Linked DNA regions of Homo sapiens. The protein of the gene in region 2 interacts with the protein of the main gene of each other region in a pairwise test. Each region holds a gene or a part of one and is shown on either strand. Other genes may lie near its edges.

What was found.
Region 1: the proteins of CHODL (region 2) and C2CD2L interact in binary tests that used the Homo sapiens proteins (3 or more experiments, as listed by UniProt).

The regions. Positions count from the first base shown.
Region 1 is NC_000011.10:119,102,378-119,110,354, reverse strand, and holds the start of C2CD2L (phospholipid transfer protein C2CD2L), read right to left. Parts: upstream 3,012-7,977; 5' UTR 2,614-3,011; coding exon 2,260-2,613; intron 2,243-2,259; exon of another isoform or gene 1,001-2,242; intron 252-1,000; coding exon 156-251; intron 1-155.
Region 2 is NC_000021.9:18,247,821-18,254,842, reverse strand, and holds part of CHODL (chondrolectin isoform a precursor), read right to left. Parts: intron 1-7,022. UniProt on the Homo sapiens protein: May play a role in the development of the nervous system such as in neurite outgrowth and elongation. May be involved in motor axon growth and guidance.

The DNA of each region.
Region 1 (7,977 bases), on a different chromosome or scaffold from region 2:
ACATAACTTCAATGGGATTCTCAGACTTCCTGAAACCAATCCTTAGATCCATAAGGCATTCACAGACTCCAGGTTAAGAACCTCTGGACTAAAGGGAGCCCTTGGGGTCAGTCCTTCTTGGACCCCAAAGAGGGCAGTGCCCATCAGACCCTTACCATGGTATGCTCAGATTGGTCTACGCAGGTCACATGACTGATGCTGGCTCTGGGTGGGAGTTGGGGCACCTCCTCAAAGGCGATTTGGATGGAGCTCTGAGGGAGTAATGTGGGCATTGGATCAGGTCTCTGGAGCTGCCCCCCACAGGGTTGGCCTGCTCAGTTGCTGGCTGGACTCTGCCACTGCGGAGGCCTCAGCTGCAGGCTGGCTTCTGGCCCCTCCTTGGCTCAGGGCTTTAAGACAGGAGGTAGTCCCCTCAAGGCCTGCCTCTCCAGGGGCCTGTAGCTGCTAGGAGCCACTGAGCAATGGGGAGGTAGTCCACCTCAGAGACTAGATCACCTTAAGCTGAAGACCCTGGCTTCCTCCTGGAATACCAAGAGCTTCCTTCTTCTTCTCCCTGCAATCCCTTTCATCCCCTACCCTACCCCCTAAAAAAACAAATAACAAACAAACAAAAAATCCTACATAGAAAAAAGTTAAGGTGCTGGTTGCCACCTATATATAATAGCTGGGCAGAGGGAAAGGGCTAAGCCCCGGTAAAGGTGGTAGAGCCACCTTGTTCAAGATAAGAGCTGCAGAAATGAAGCTAAGCCTTCTTCCAAATAAATAAGATGTGGAGGCTTCAAGAGTATGATGCTTCATATTCTTGGAGATGAAGATGAGCATGGCCTTGGGGATCCGTACCAGGGGGACTGGGAAGAGATACAAGCTCAGAGGACCCAAGAGTCCAGGGGCCTGGCTAATTCCTCAAGGCAGATAGCAGGACGGTATTAGAGAGCAGAAAGCTGCTTAGATCTCAAAAGAGCTGCTCCCTAATTCGTCCACAGTAATGGAAGCAACCTACCGCAGCCCCACCTGGAGAGCAGTGCGGACACAGAATTGAGGAAGGGGCACAGAATTGGCTGGCAACTCTTCCTTGGGTCTTGAGATGGAGGAAACAAATCCATAGGGTTCATTTGCTTGGCAAACCAGGGGAAGCCAACTCCTTTGCTCTGGTAGCTGTCTCATTCAAAGGCTAGGCCAAGGAAGATGGGGAGATGGATGCTTGAAACCTCAATCTCCCCACCCTCTGCAAGGGAGGCCAATGTCCAGTTGAGTCAGCTATCCTGGGGAGTTGCTTCTGACCGAGGGACAAGGTACAGGGAGAGTTGGATGAAGAGGTGGGTTCAAGGTGTAAACTGACAGATGCCATCTGGCTTTTAGCCAGCCAGCTGGACAGAGTAAATAGAGCAATTTCTTGTGGACATTTCTGTTTCCGGCATCTGGGGAACTAGTAAGGTAAAGCCTCCAAACTCATAGTGGCTGGAAATAGAGAACCCTCTGAGCAAGGAGCTGATGGACTGTGAGAGCAAGGAGAGATTGCTGGGTCAGGATGGGAGGGAGCTCCAGAAAAGAGAGACTTCTACCTCCCACCTTATCTCCATCTCATGACCACGCTTCCTGCCCCACTTCCTGGGAGGCCAGATGCCCATGGTGCAATGGGAGGAAGTAGGCTGGACTGGTTTGTGACTGACCCTCAAGGGGCAGTTCCAAGCTCATCTACTGGTAGGGGCACTGTCAATCTGCTCTCCACCTGAACACTCCCCAACCCCCAGTGAACCACAGGCCAGCATGGAGGAGAAGGATGTGTTTGACTGTAGCAGTGAAATTACTGTCGGGTAGGGGGGTGATTCAGGCTCCTTGGGGATCTGCCTGACCACACCAGGGATTTGGGGCATGAAATGTTAAATGGGTGTGGTGGCATGAGAAGCAGGCAAATTCCTTCTGCAGGTGCACCTGTCTCCCATGCCCCAACACAACCAGCACCCAGGCAAGGCGGAAGTGCCCTCAGGCACAGGGATTAGCGTTGCTATGAGAACAGCAACTTGTGCATGGGTTTGGAACCAGAGTACCTTGCCCACAGAAATGGAAGTCTGGGGACCCAGTTGGATTTCTACAACCTCCAGCCTTAGCGGCACCCTTTTCTCTGATCCGGGAGGGGAAGAGAAGCCATAGGGTTCCCCAGTTTATGCCCACCCTCGTCTGGCCTCCTAGCACGAGCAGTCAGTCCCTCCCCTGGAAGGAAAGGCTGAAGGGACCACCCAAGCGCTTGGTCCAACTCACCCCGTTTCTGCAGGCCTGCTCGTTCAGCGCTCGCACCCAAGCCCGCTGCCAGTTCTCCCGGAAAGACTTGAAGGCGAAGAGTGACGCCAGGAGGCCCCGGACTCCTGGCTCCTCGGCGGCGCCAGCCCGAGTCGCCCGCAGCCGCAGCAGCGAGCGCCACACGCCCAGCTCCCGCAGGGAACCCGCGGGTTCCCCGGCTAAGGCGGGTCCCGGGCCCCGGTCCCCGCGGGCCCGCGCCAGCCACAAGCCCCGGGCATATTGCAGCAGCCAGGCGAACACCGTGAGCAGCGAGGCGGCGAAGAGGATCAGCAAGGCCGCCCAGCCCACGTCCCGCTGCCCCCAGCCCGGATCCATGCTCCGCGCGGGCTCCGATCCCGGTCCCGGCTGGGGCTCACCCGCTGCCCCGGGGGAGCATGGCCCGGGCGGGCCGCGGGGAGGAGGTGGGCTCCCCCGGGGCTGGGCGCGCGGGGTCGGGGGCTCTCCGCGGCTGAGTGCCCAGGACTAGTGGGTGCCACAGGGCGAGGAGAGGAGGTCCTCGGGGGTCGCGATGCCGGGGTCTCTGTCTCCGTGGTCCGGGTCTCTCCTAGCTTGGTCAGCAGTCGGACCCGTTAGTCGCCGGCCAGTGCCCGACTCCTCCCACCGCGCGGGCCCCGCCGGACCCTGGAGGGGACTGGTCTGCAGAGACGCTGGGGCTCGCGGGCCGGCACCGGCTCCGGGAGGGCTGCGTGCGCAGAGCTGACACTGACAACACCGCCGGCGCCCCGCCCCCACCCGCCCTTAAAGGAGCCGCACCCGCGCCGGGCGGGGCCAGGACAGCCTGGCGCTCCCTCGCTGGAGGAGGGCGGGAGGGCTAGCAGCGAGCGGAGGAGGTTCCGGGGTTGAAAATAGGCGGGATCTTTGATCACCTCGCCCCATCTTGCAATCGCGGTGCTCCCACACTCAGCTCAAGGCAAGAGTAACTTCACTTACCTAAGATGCTGCCTTTGCTTTCCCCTATGCTTGTTAGATTTCCACAGGTCGGACGCCTGTGAGGTTAAGAAGGAGGTGACCCCTGTGGAAATCACCGCCCCCTTCTCCCAACACCCCCAGACTCAGCGACTTCTAGCTTCCCATTTCCTGGGGGAAGCTAGGCCCAGGGTAAGGAGACGCAGAGCGTCCCTCCCAGATAGAAGTGTCTGGCAGAGGTCCAGCTGATGTCAACAGAGAGAAAGCAGAACCTGAAGCTGGGAGAGGTTGAGAGTAGAACACCGAATTTGAATTCCCCCCACCATCATCACCCTCCTTCCTCTTGGAGCTTGGACCCAGAAACAGCCCCATTAACCTCCTTGCTCGTGTAGGTTTGTTCTGGAGATTCCCAAGCCCAGGCTGTGTGTCTGTTTTTAAAAATAATGTATTTCCATAGTAACAGCTCCTGCCTATGGAGCACGTGTAGAGGGGGTGGTAATGACAAGGGAGCTGGCAATGTAGCACTGGACTATCAATAGATTCAGCCACAAGACCTTGCCACTCTAAGTATGTGATATCCCAACAAGCTCCCAAGAAATGGTGCTGTAGGTACACTGCCCAACCTCTGGCCTCAGAAGCCATCTTTTCCTAGACTCAAGGAGTTGATTCAACCTCTACAGGACTGGGGCTCATCAATGCTTGCTGAGGACAGGGGAAGGAAATACCTGCAAAAGGATTCAAAGGAATCCTGGGGGAATTCACATTCTCCCAAGAGCCCCTTCTTCATACATGTGGGAAGGTCTTTGGCACACAGTCCCTTTCTTAAAGAGGTAGGATGGAAAGGTGTTAAGTATCTTTCTCCCAAACCCAAGTAGTTGTCTGAGGAATGAGCACATGAGAATAAGAGAATAAACAATGCCTTCTGAAGTGTGGGATGGCAGGGCTAGACAGAAACTGACAGGTCAGCAACAGGTTTGTCTGAGCCAGAGGAGGTGGTGGGGTAGCCTGGGCCTCCCTAGATTTCCCTGTAAGGAATGATGGGGAGAGGTGGGGGTGAATGAGGTAACCTCCTGTGGCCCTGCCCATGCATTGTCACTGGACTGCCAAATCAGTGGAGATTCCTAGAGTCTGGGTTTCTAATCTCAAAGGGAGGAGAAGACATGAAATCAAGGGAGGAGAGAACTCAGGGCCAGAACCAGGGATGCAGGAGGAAGCTGTCAGTGGGAAGAGCAGCTAGGGTTTAGGGGAGCAGGTTATGCAGGAAGTTGTCCAGGTAGAAGCTTTCCCTATGAAGACCCTCTTCCCCCAAGAATCCTTCAGGAACCCTCAGACCCCCTAGTGATCTCCATTCTCTGACTTCTTTGATTTATTCCCTCAACTTCTCCACTGAGTGCTTGGTCCTATGCTGCCAGATACTGCTTCACAATTCAGTATCTGAACTGTGAGTCTACCTAGTTACATGAGTCTCCCTAGTTAGTCCTCCCTCTTTTTTTTTTTTTTTTTCTCTTTTCTTGAGACAGAAAGTCACTGTTGCCCAGGCTGGGGTGCAGTAGCGAGATCTTGGCTCACTGCAACCTCCACCTCCCAGGTTTGAGTGATTCTCCTGCCTCAGCCTACCAAGTAGTTGGGACTATAGGCATGCGCCATCATGCCTGGCTAATTTTTGTTATTTTTAGTAGAGACAGGGTTTCACCATGTTGGCCAGGCTGATCTCGAACTCCTGACCTCAGGTGATCCTCCCGCCTCGGCCTCCCAAAGTGCTGGGATTACAGGTGAGAGCCACTGTGCCCAGCCTAGTCCTCCTTCTTTCTTCCATTACTTAGACCTCTAGCACTTACATTCTGCCTTAGAGTCTAGCTGATTGTTTATATGTCTGCTTTTTCCATGCATCAGGAAGCTGCCTAGGGGTGGGAACCATGTCTTAGTCATCTCTTTTCCCTCAAATTCAACCAAGATGCTCCAAATATGCTGAAGTAGACTCCCTGGGGGCAAGCAACTGCAATTATATTAGTTTGTATCCTCCACAGTACTGAAGAGCTTCCTATGCACATAGTAGGGATTAACAAACTTTGTAATTTTAAGAAGTCTAACAGAAAATACTCAAGTATGCTTTGAGAATTTCTATGCCATTTCTGTCTTTTGAAATATCATTCATGCCATACCAGTGGAATGGGAAATCCTGGGGCTTGCTTTTAATTAACAACTTTTTTCTAGACTAAGAGGGGAGAGGTGGGAGGAAAAGGAAAAAGAGTGATTCAGCTGACTGGACAGAGCCACAGATAGAGTCCTGCAAGTATCACAGCCCCAGACTATCCAGAGGGGTCTCATTGTCTTTGTGGCACTATGAAACATTTTTGGGACAGGCTTTGTCTAGCAATCACATTCAGTGGATTGGCCTTGCTCATTGGGAGCCACTCAAGGCTACTTAGAAGAGGTGTGCATCTCAAACACTGTCTGCTCAGTCCAGGGCCACTGACAAGTCAACTGGTCTGTGAATCCTAGGGCCGGCTTCAGCATTCAGGAAAACGCTTTGAACTTTTACCAGGGAAGGCACACAATTTCAAGTGAAGCCAAAAGTCATGTGTTTGTTTCTCCTTCTGATTAGTCTGATCATCAACTGGGACTTTATCATCATGGGAACAAAAATACTCAGATTATCTGACAAGTATCTTAGTAACCATTTTCTGATAGTAACATGTATATGTGGATGATGAATCCTTAGTCTCTCTTGTCTTTGATTACATCCTTCCACCCTCCCCAGGAGGGTGGTGGTAGGGAGGGCTAATGATCTCTGGAGAAGAAAGAGATAAAGCTTCCCAATACCAGGCTGGGAAGGAAGATTTATTAGGATTGGCCTCCTAATAAAAAAGGAAATAGATACAGACTGGCTCTCAGACCTCCAGGGAGTCTCAGTATACTCGTCATCAACAAGATAACTGAATGCTGCCTCCTCTGGGATCCCACAAGCTCCTCCTTTCCACCAGCTTCTGGTGTCTCACTGTCGCTGCCTGTGAAAGGTCCTTCTACTCTTATAATCTACTGAAATGATACTTCTCTTCCTCAAGACCACTTACTCTGGTCACAACTAATTGCTCCCTCCATATGCACCTATTGCCCTCAGTCCTCCTTTCAGCCTCAGCCTCATTATGTGTGATGATGCCTTCCTTGTACACAGATGTCTGTGTTCCTAGCCCCATGGGGACACCCTGTGGAAGAGAAAACACTTGCCTCCCGGGAGTTTCTAGTTTAAAAGGGGCACACGTGCATACACACAACACACACAGAAAAATAATAGCAGTGGGATAAGTACTGAAAATCTGGTGGAATACTAGCAAGTAAATTACGAAAATTTATGTATTTTATACATATCTGGGTTTTTGTTGTTGTTAATTAGAGCCATTTTCAAGTAGAAAAGCCATTTCACATCTGATTTAGTTTGTTTGTTTGTTTGTTTTGAGACAGTTTCCCCTCTGTTGCCCAGGCTGGGATGCAGTGGCATGATCGCGGCTCACTGCAACCTCCTCATCCCAGGTTCAAGCGATCCTCCTGCCTCAGCCTCCTGAGTAGCTGAGATTACAGGCATGTGCCACCACACCCGGCTAATTTTTGTATTTTCAGTAGAGACGGGGTTTCACCGTGTTGGCCAGGCTGGTCTCGAACTCCTGACCTCAAGTGAGCCACCCACCTTCGCCTACCAAAGTGCTGGGATTACAGACGTTAGCCACTGCGCCCGGCCTCACATCTGATTTTGAGGGAAAGAAGAAACTATCTTCGGCTTAAAAACGGTCAACATGACCCTGACTCCTGGAACATGCCATAGAGGGAAGAGTGGACAAAGCGCTAGGCTATTGGAGTCCTTTCCCTAACTCACTGGTGGTGACTTCCTCTCTGACAAATGGAAATCATTTGCCGCCTAAGAGCCTGTCGGGGAATGAAAGGTAATAAAGATGCTGGTGAACTGGCTGGGCGTGGTGGCTCACGCCTGTACTCCCAGCATTTTGGGAGGCCAAGGCGGGCAGATCACCTGAGGTCGGGAGTCCCAAACCAGCCTGACCAACATAGGGAAATCCCGTCTCTACTAAAAATACAAAATTAGCCGGGCGTGGTGGCGCATGCCTGTAATTCCAGCTACTGCCTGTAATCCCAGCTACTCGGGAGGCTGAGGCAGGAGAATCTCTTGAACCTGGGAGGTGGAGGTTTCGGTGAGCCGAGATCGCGCCATTGCACTCCAGCCTGGGCAACAAGAGCGAAACTCTGTCTCAAAAAAAAAAAAAAAAAAAAAAAAAAAAAGCTGGTGAATTGTTGTTTGCAGGGGAACAGGCCAAGCAAAATGCACAGCAACCTGCAGGAGGCCAAGCAAAATGCACAGTGACCTACAGGAAGAAACCTGACTGGGAGTTCCTCAGACTCACAGGAAATCAGTTGTGGGTCTGATTCCTCTCCCTCCTCAGCTCTTTCCAGAGCCTCAGCCTGGAAATCTCCATCTCCTCCTTGTGGGAGCTAGGTACAATGCAGTGATCCACGGCCAAGCTGAAGTCTCGAGTTAAATCCAAGACCTGAGGGTACTCCCAATCCCTCAGTGAAGTGCTGCGCTGGGTTGCCGGGCAACTAACTGCTACAGCTGGGGCAGAAGGTGGGTGGGATGCTGAGAAAAAAATACCAGAATCGAGGACAAGAAAAACAGAGTGGGAGGGGCTTTTCAAGGATCTACGCTTTAGAATTTACACCATCCTTCCAAATCGTAGCTTTGTTTCCGGGAACTGAGTTGTGTTT
Region 2 (7,022 bases):
ATGTTAAGCAGTGCTAATTTTCCTAATTATCAAGTGAAATAACTGCAAATATGCATATCAGGTCATAATAAAGTCGTATATATTTATATTTACATATATATGCCAGATTAGATAGATAGATAGACAGACGATAAACAGATATAAATAGATTGATGTCAAGGATATTACGGTGTATAGGATTTAGCTAGTTCTATAAGCAATGGACTTTCTATTGTTCTATTGTCTACACTCACCCTTGTTTACCACTAAGAATGTATGGCAAGATTATAAACAATCTCCAGAATGGTCATTCTGTCTTGTTTTGATTTTCACTGCTTCTGCTTTTGTTCACCTCTGCTCTCTGCTGTCAACTTTTAAAACCGCCAAGGATCCCTCTCTGTTACTATTTCTTATGCCCAGACTGCTTTCCATAGTCCATAGCCTCTTCTACTTTCTGAGTCTTGCCCTATTTTAGCTTAGATTTGGACCTGGAAAATAGACTGTCAATTACTTTATGTAAAATTTAGACAAATTACTTTATGCTAAGAAATTAGGAAATAGTTTCTCTACTTTCTTACAATTCATCTCCATTAACATTATTCCTGTTGGTATTTATGGCCTTTTCTACTATGTATTTAATTGTGTAGCCTATCAATAAAAGTTGTCAGTAGTCAGGGATTTCTGGGGGTGGGGGAGATTCTTGTATTTAAATACTGGCAAAAAAAAAAAGCATTCAAACTTTGTACTTTAATTACAGTACATCACACTGAGCCAGTGTATCATATCCATTCCTTTCTGGAGTCAGCAGTTAATGACCTATGATGACACTCAGAGGGAGAAAGGCACAGAAATCAGTGGAAGGTCATTAACTTCTCAACAGTGTTTGAGTGATAGGCATTCAATATCTTGACACAAACTGAGAACAACCAATCATAAAATAGTAGTTCTGGCAATGCAAGCAAGCCAAGAGTTGTTCCCTCTGTTTCGTGACCGTGATCTGGACCCAGCAGCAACACACTAAAAAATCTGAACAAATTAACAGGCTGCCCAAATTGTTAATGAAAAAGAACATATTAGTATGAATGACCATGGGAAATAAGTTAGAGAAACTTCAGGAGGACAAATCAGCCTGAAAATAAATATTCTTTGAGAGATGATCATGAAAGTCCCAAATTAACAGAAAGCCCCAATGGTTGACTCTGAAAATTAATGTATTATTTTAAAATTTCTCCTAATATATTACTAAGTTTTGTGATGATTTCATCATTTAAAATGGTTGTTCTCAGTCAGAGCCTAACAATGCCATTAAGCTTGTATTTTCATGACTGTATTTAGAAGCATGCGGTTTCCATTTTCATCTACTACATCCTTTACATAGTTCTAAGTGTCCAAATATATCTTAATTACATTCCCTTGAGTTTTTAACTTGTTCGATTTTTCACTCCAAGAACTTTCTGCCTTGGATTTTATCCCAGCACTTTTGAAATATTAAATTTCCCTAAGAAGATTGTTTTGCAAGATGTCAAAAAATGTCATATTAAAAAAAAACAAAACAGAATAGCCAGACCTTTCAGTGAGTAAAAAGTTTGTTATATGTAACAAAGCCCCAAACATTCAGGGAATTCCTGGGTATGATGCATATGCTAAAAGTCACTGTTCATTATCCCTGATATATTAAAAAATAAATGCAGCACAGATTTACTCATGATGAGCATACAGAAATGGTGATGTAAATTAACTCATAAAATTAAGATAGTACTTCTAATTAAATGCATGAGAGCTTTAGGTTTCATGTGGAAATTTCTAACACCATTATGTTAGTTCATACAGATATAATAATAATGAAAGAAAAAAACCTAGGGAGAGAGATTATATTTAAAATAACTAACAATCAGTGCTGTCCAGACCCTGGACGATAGACAGCTTGACACTCTCTGTGCCAGGCTGTGTCTCTGGTTGTGGATAATAGAGCAGTCCTCCGGTCCTGCTTGAGGGAGTGGAGCTTGTGATGGCTGCACGGTCGGGAGACTCTCAGGGCATCAAGACAGCAGCCCACCGTCAACTGGAACAGATCTATTAACTCTAAAGTTTGATCATCAGCTGTGTCTACAGAGTTTGAACTGAAAAGTCACTAACAGTTCAGATCTAGCAAGGCAGTTTTCAGGAAATTATAAATATATTGCACAATTTTTATGGGTTTATATACAGTCAGTTAAAGCTGACACTGAATTTCTTTACATTCAATTCTATTTTATTACTGACTTCCACCTTATCGTGCAAATTTGGTCCAAGTTGCAGCAAAATCATCAGAAGCAGCAGCTATTGAACGTCTCACCACTCTTTCAGCTGATCACATTTGGCTACTAATGCAGTGAAACTCCAACAGCTGGGAAACAAATGTTGCCCTAATTCCCAGAAAAGTTTTGTTAATGCAGATCTTCTGGAAGCAACTTTCCCACTTCTGTAAAAGCCAATTTTCCTAGAGAACAATTACAATTACCTCTCGTCTCATTCTGTGAGATAACGTGGAGAATTTCTCTGTCTCTTATTTTCAAATGTTATGTTCAGATAAAATCTTCCATCAACATTTTATGGGATAGATAAGGATTCAGAGAACCATATAACGGGTTCTATTACACTAAGCTTACATTTATGCCGTCGAACTATAAATTACTAAATGTCAACTAGCATCTGCAATTGAAGACATCCTTTTACTGTGGGCTTATCTACAAGAGAGAGAAAAGATCTGCCCAGGATTCTACAAACATATTGAGAAAATAAAATTCAAGATAATTTCTCTACAAACATATTGAGAAAATAAAATCCAAGATAATTTATTTGCTAGATGTGCACTAGGAGCTAATTAATTTTTAAATCTAAAAAGTATTTAAATATGTAAGTTTTTCTGCACTGGATTTTTAAGCATTTATTTTAAGTTCATGGGTACATATGTAGGATGTGCAGGTTTATTACATAGGTAAATGTGTGTCATGGAGGTTTGTCGTATAGATTGCACTGAATTTTTACAGAAATATTTTATAGAATATTTCTTTTATATAAAAGAGGCTTCTTTATATAAAGTATATAAATATTTATTTTATATATTAAAATAAATAAATAAAATAAATAAAATAAATATTTATTTTATATATTAAAATAAATAAATAAAATATTTATTTTATATATTAAAATAAATAAATAAAATAAATATTTTATATATTAAAATAAATAAATAAAATAAATATTTTATATATTAAAATAAATAAATAAAATAAATATTTTATATATTAAAATAAATAAATAAAATAAATATTTATATATTAAAATAATAAATAAAATAAATATTTTATATATTAAAATAAATATTTATTTTATATATTAAAATAAATAATTAAAATAAATAAAATAAATATGTATTTTTATATATTAAAATAAATAAATAAAATAAATAAAATACATATTTTATATATTAAAACAAATAAAATACATTTATTTTATATAAAAGAAATATTCATCCTTATTAGTTTCACACACAGCTACATAAATAAACAGGCCCTTTTATTTAGAGAAAGTTATTATTATTAACACTCCTATCACTGTCACAACAAAGATTTCATCACTCTTTCCATGAATAAGTAGATGATTTTTGTCTTTTTCCTTAGCCATTAAAATTTCTATAGAGCTAACTATTGGCAGAGGTTTAAATGCTCTTGGCAATGATATAAAGTGGGGCCAAACTCATGAAGTCAGGGTAGTTTGCTTTTTCTTTCTGAGCAGAAAGGATCTATAATTTGGTTTTCTTTTTGCTTATATTTGTTTATTTTCTGATAGTTGAGTGCTCAGTTAGTTATGAAAATAATAAATATTTTCTAATATCTCACGCTATAATTATATATTATTAATATTAGATGAATATTGAATTTATATCACTTTTTCAATAAAAATATAAAAGACATATTACAAATTCCTGCTGTTCAATTATGATCTACCATTAGTTGCAAAAAAAAGTAAAAAAGAGCATCCACATGGTAAATATTCCCCAAACCAGACTGAATTAACTTAGAATGTTTTATTAGAATCACACAAGATATTTTTTTCTTTTTCATAATTTCTTCTTACCCCCCTCACAATCACACTGATAAATATGTTGATACTACCATACACAGTGCAGCAAGGACTGTGATACCAGTGCCAACACTTTTGAACTAAAAAGAAAATGACTGGTGTTCAAGTGTTCTGCGTTCAGCATTCAATGTTACACCAACTTCTTAAAATTTTTTCTTATAAAGAGTTTTATTATAATAAACTTTTATTTTTACAACAGAGATTTTATAATGTACTTAATTGCATAGTGCACTATAGCTGGAGTCTATTTTCTTACATTAATAAACAAATTTATTTATAATTTTATTTATAATTTTAAATTAAGTTTATAAATGTAGGTTGTGGTCATTTTCTGGATGGTGGCAGCAGCAGCAAGCCCTACTTTTCCAGTTGGAAAATGCGTAAGCTTTCTGAGAAGAGCATGAGACTATTTTTTTAAAAAATCAGAATATTTACAATGGAGATTAGAATAATAAGTAGTAAACCAAGTATCATTGTGACTTAAGAGTTCATGTAGCCAATCAAAATGAATTAGCTTTGAAACCAAACTCTACACTTGAACTTTGGGTACTTGAGATTATTTAATCACCCCTGGCCTCAGTCTTCTTACTTAAATAATGAGACCAGTTATGAGTTTTATAGAAGTAATGATTCTAATAATAAAAGCCTCAAATTTAGCAATAATTTAGAATGTAGCACCTCATTTCTACCACAATCCATGCTTTGGGATAAATTGGGAAAAGACGACCTCTCCTGGTGAGAGATGGCAGAAAGGTCCCTCTTATAGACTGTTCAACTAGAAAAAGTTGATTTTGCCTCTAGGTAGCTTGAGCTACAGGCACTGGGCTTGCCAAGCTGAGCTCCTTCTCCTGTCTCTTTGGCTTGTACCTCGACACAGTGCACAATCTGCATAACTGTGTTTGAACCTTTTTAATATTCCTAGCAATCCTATGACATAGGTGCTCTTATCTGTTTTCAAAATGAGGCAAAGAGGGCAGTTCACACAGCTCACAAGTGCTGAAGCTGGGTTGTGAAACCAGGCCATCTGGCTCTACACTCCATGCTTTTACCAGGTTTCTATGCTGTCTCCATATGTCTCAAACCTAATATAAAGGTGAAATATTTCATGAACAAAAGGGATTGATGAACACAAACACTGTGCATGTTATCTATGTCAGAATCATAAGCATTAATCTGTTATTGATTATTGGGTGGCTAATATAAGCAAGGCTTGTGCATTGAGAGCTTGTTTCTAAACAGAATTAGATTTTCTGTTACAAATATTTAAATAAGAATTAATGTTGCCTCTGTCTCAGATTTTCAAACCATATATGCCTTTAATAAATTTTTATCTAGTCTTTTTATTTTCCAAATAAAACAAACTAGATCCAAATTGAATGCATTCCACATTACAAAGAGTATAACTTTAGCCAAGTTGTCATCCTGTGTTATATCATGAGGAATATGTTAAAATAGTAAAAGAAACACTCTCATCCTAGAGTCGCACACATCCATCTACTTGTATATGAATTCCTGACACAGAAAGTTGTTGTAAATAGTAAAAATTGTTTGTGAGTGCATCTTCTGAATTTTAACCTTGGACTCCTTTATATATATATATATTATTATATATGTATTTTATTATATATATATTATTATATATATATATTTTATTATATATATATTATATATAGTAAATTATATATAATATATATAATATTATATATATTAATATTATGTATAATATATATTATATATAAATACATATATGTATAATATATATTTACATATATGTATATATTACATATATATGTATACATAATATATATGTATACATATATATGTATTATACATATATATGTATTATATTATAGGTACAATACATATATATACACATATACAATGTATATATACATACATATACAATATACATACATATATAATATACATACATATATACACACATATACATATATACACACATATATTATATATAACATATATACATATATATTATACATATATATTATATACATATATATGTATATATTATATACATATATATGTATATAATATATACATATATGTATTATACATATATATGTATATAATATATACATATATGTATTATATATATTATATATGTATTATACATATATTTTATATATATATATAAAATACATTACCTTTTATAAAGGTAATGTAACAGATACTGCCATCTTTGGGAAAGAGTTATAAAACAAAACCATAAAATGATGACAAACAGCAGTTGAAGAATAATGGCTATGATAAATGGTTAGTTCATTAAATGACTGGTAATAAGATTAATTTGTTCCTTTCATGCCCGAGAGATACTTAAAGTAATTGCATCTCTGAAAACTGCACTGTCATCATTTTATGCTTTTGATGATGTCATAGATTAGTTCCATAGGCTGAGAAAGGCTCAGCAGTTTTTCTTGTATCTCCCTTGGTATATATTATATCATATTGTATTAATGTATGTGCTACTGTTCACCACCCATGAATTTGCAATATTCTATGGTATCCACAGGATAAGAAGAGAGGCCTCTAAATCACCCAGTCTCCTAAATAAAACATGTGCCAGTTTTAATAAAGTTAAACTGATATATATTAAAGTGTCCTGGAGAAATCTGGAAGCACCATGAAATATTCCTAATGTCATTTTGCAGCAAAAATAGGTTGGGGATCACTGCTATGCACACTAGAAAGAAAAAAGGAAAAAAAAAAAAGAAACACATTACTTCAAAACACTTCAAATGTTTAAAAGTATCACTTGCTCTTCAAACATATCCTCCCAACTTAGAGACCTGAATTTGGAATCCTTCATATTTATCCTTATGCCTACAAGTAAAATCCTTTTACCTTTGTCCTAAAGAAGACATCACTACTCACCAGTCACTTCACAAAATTAAATGATT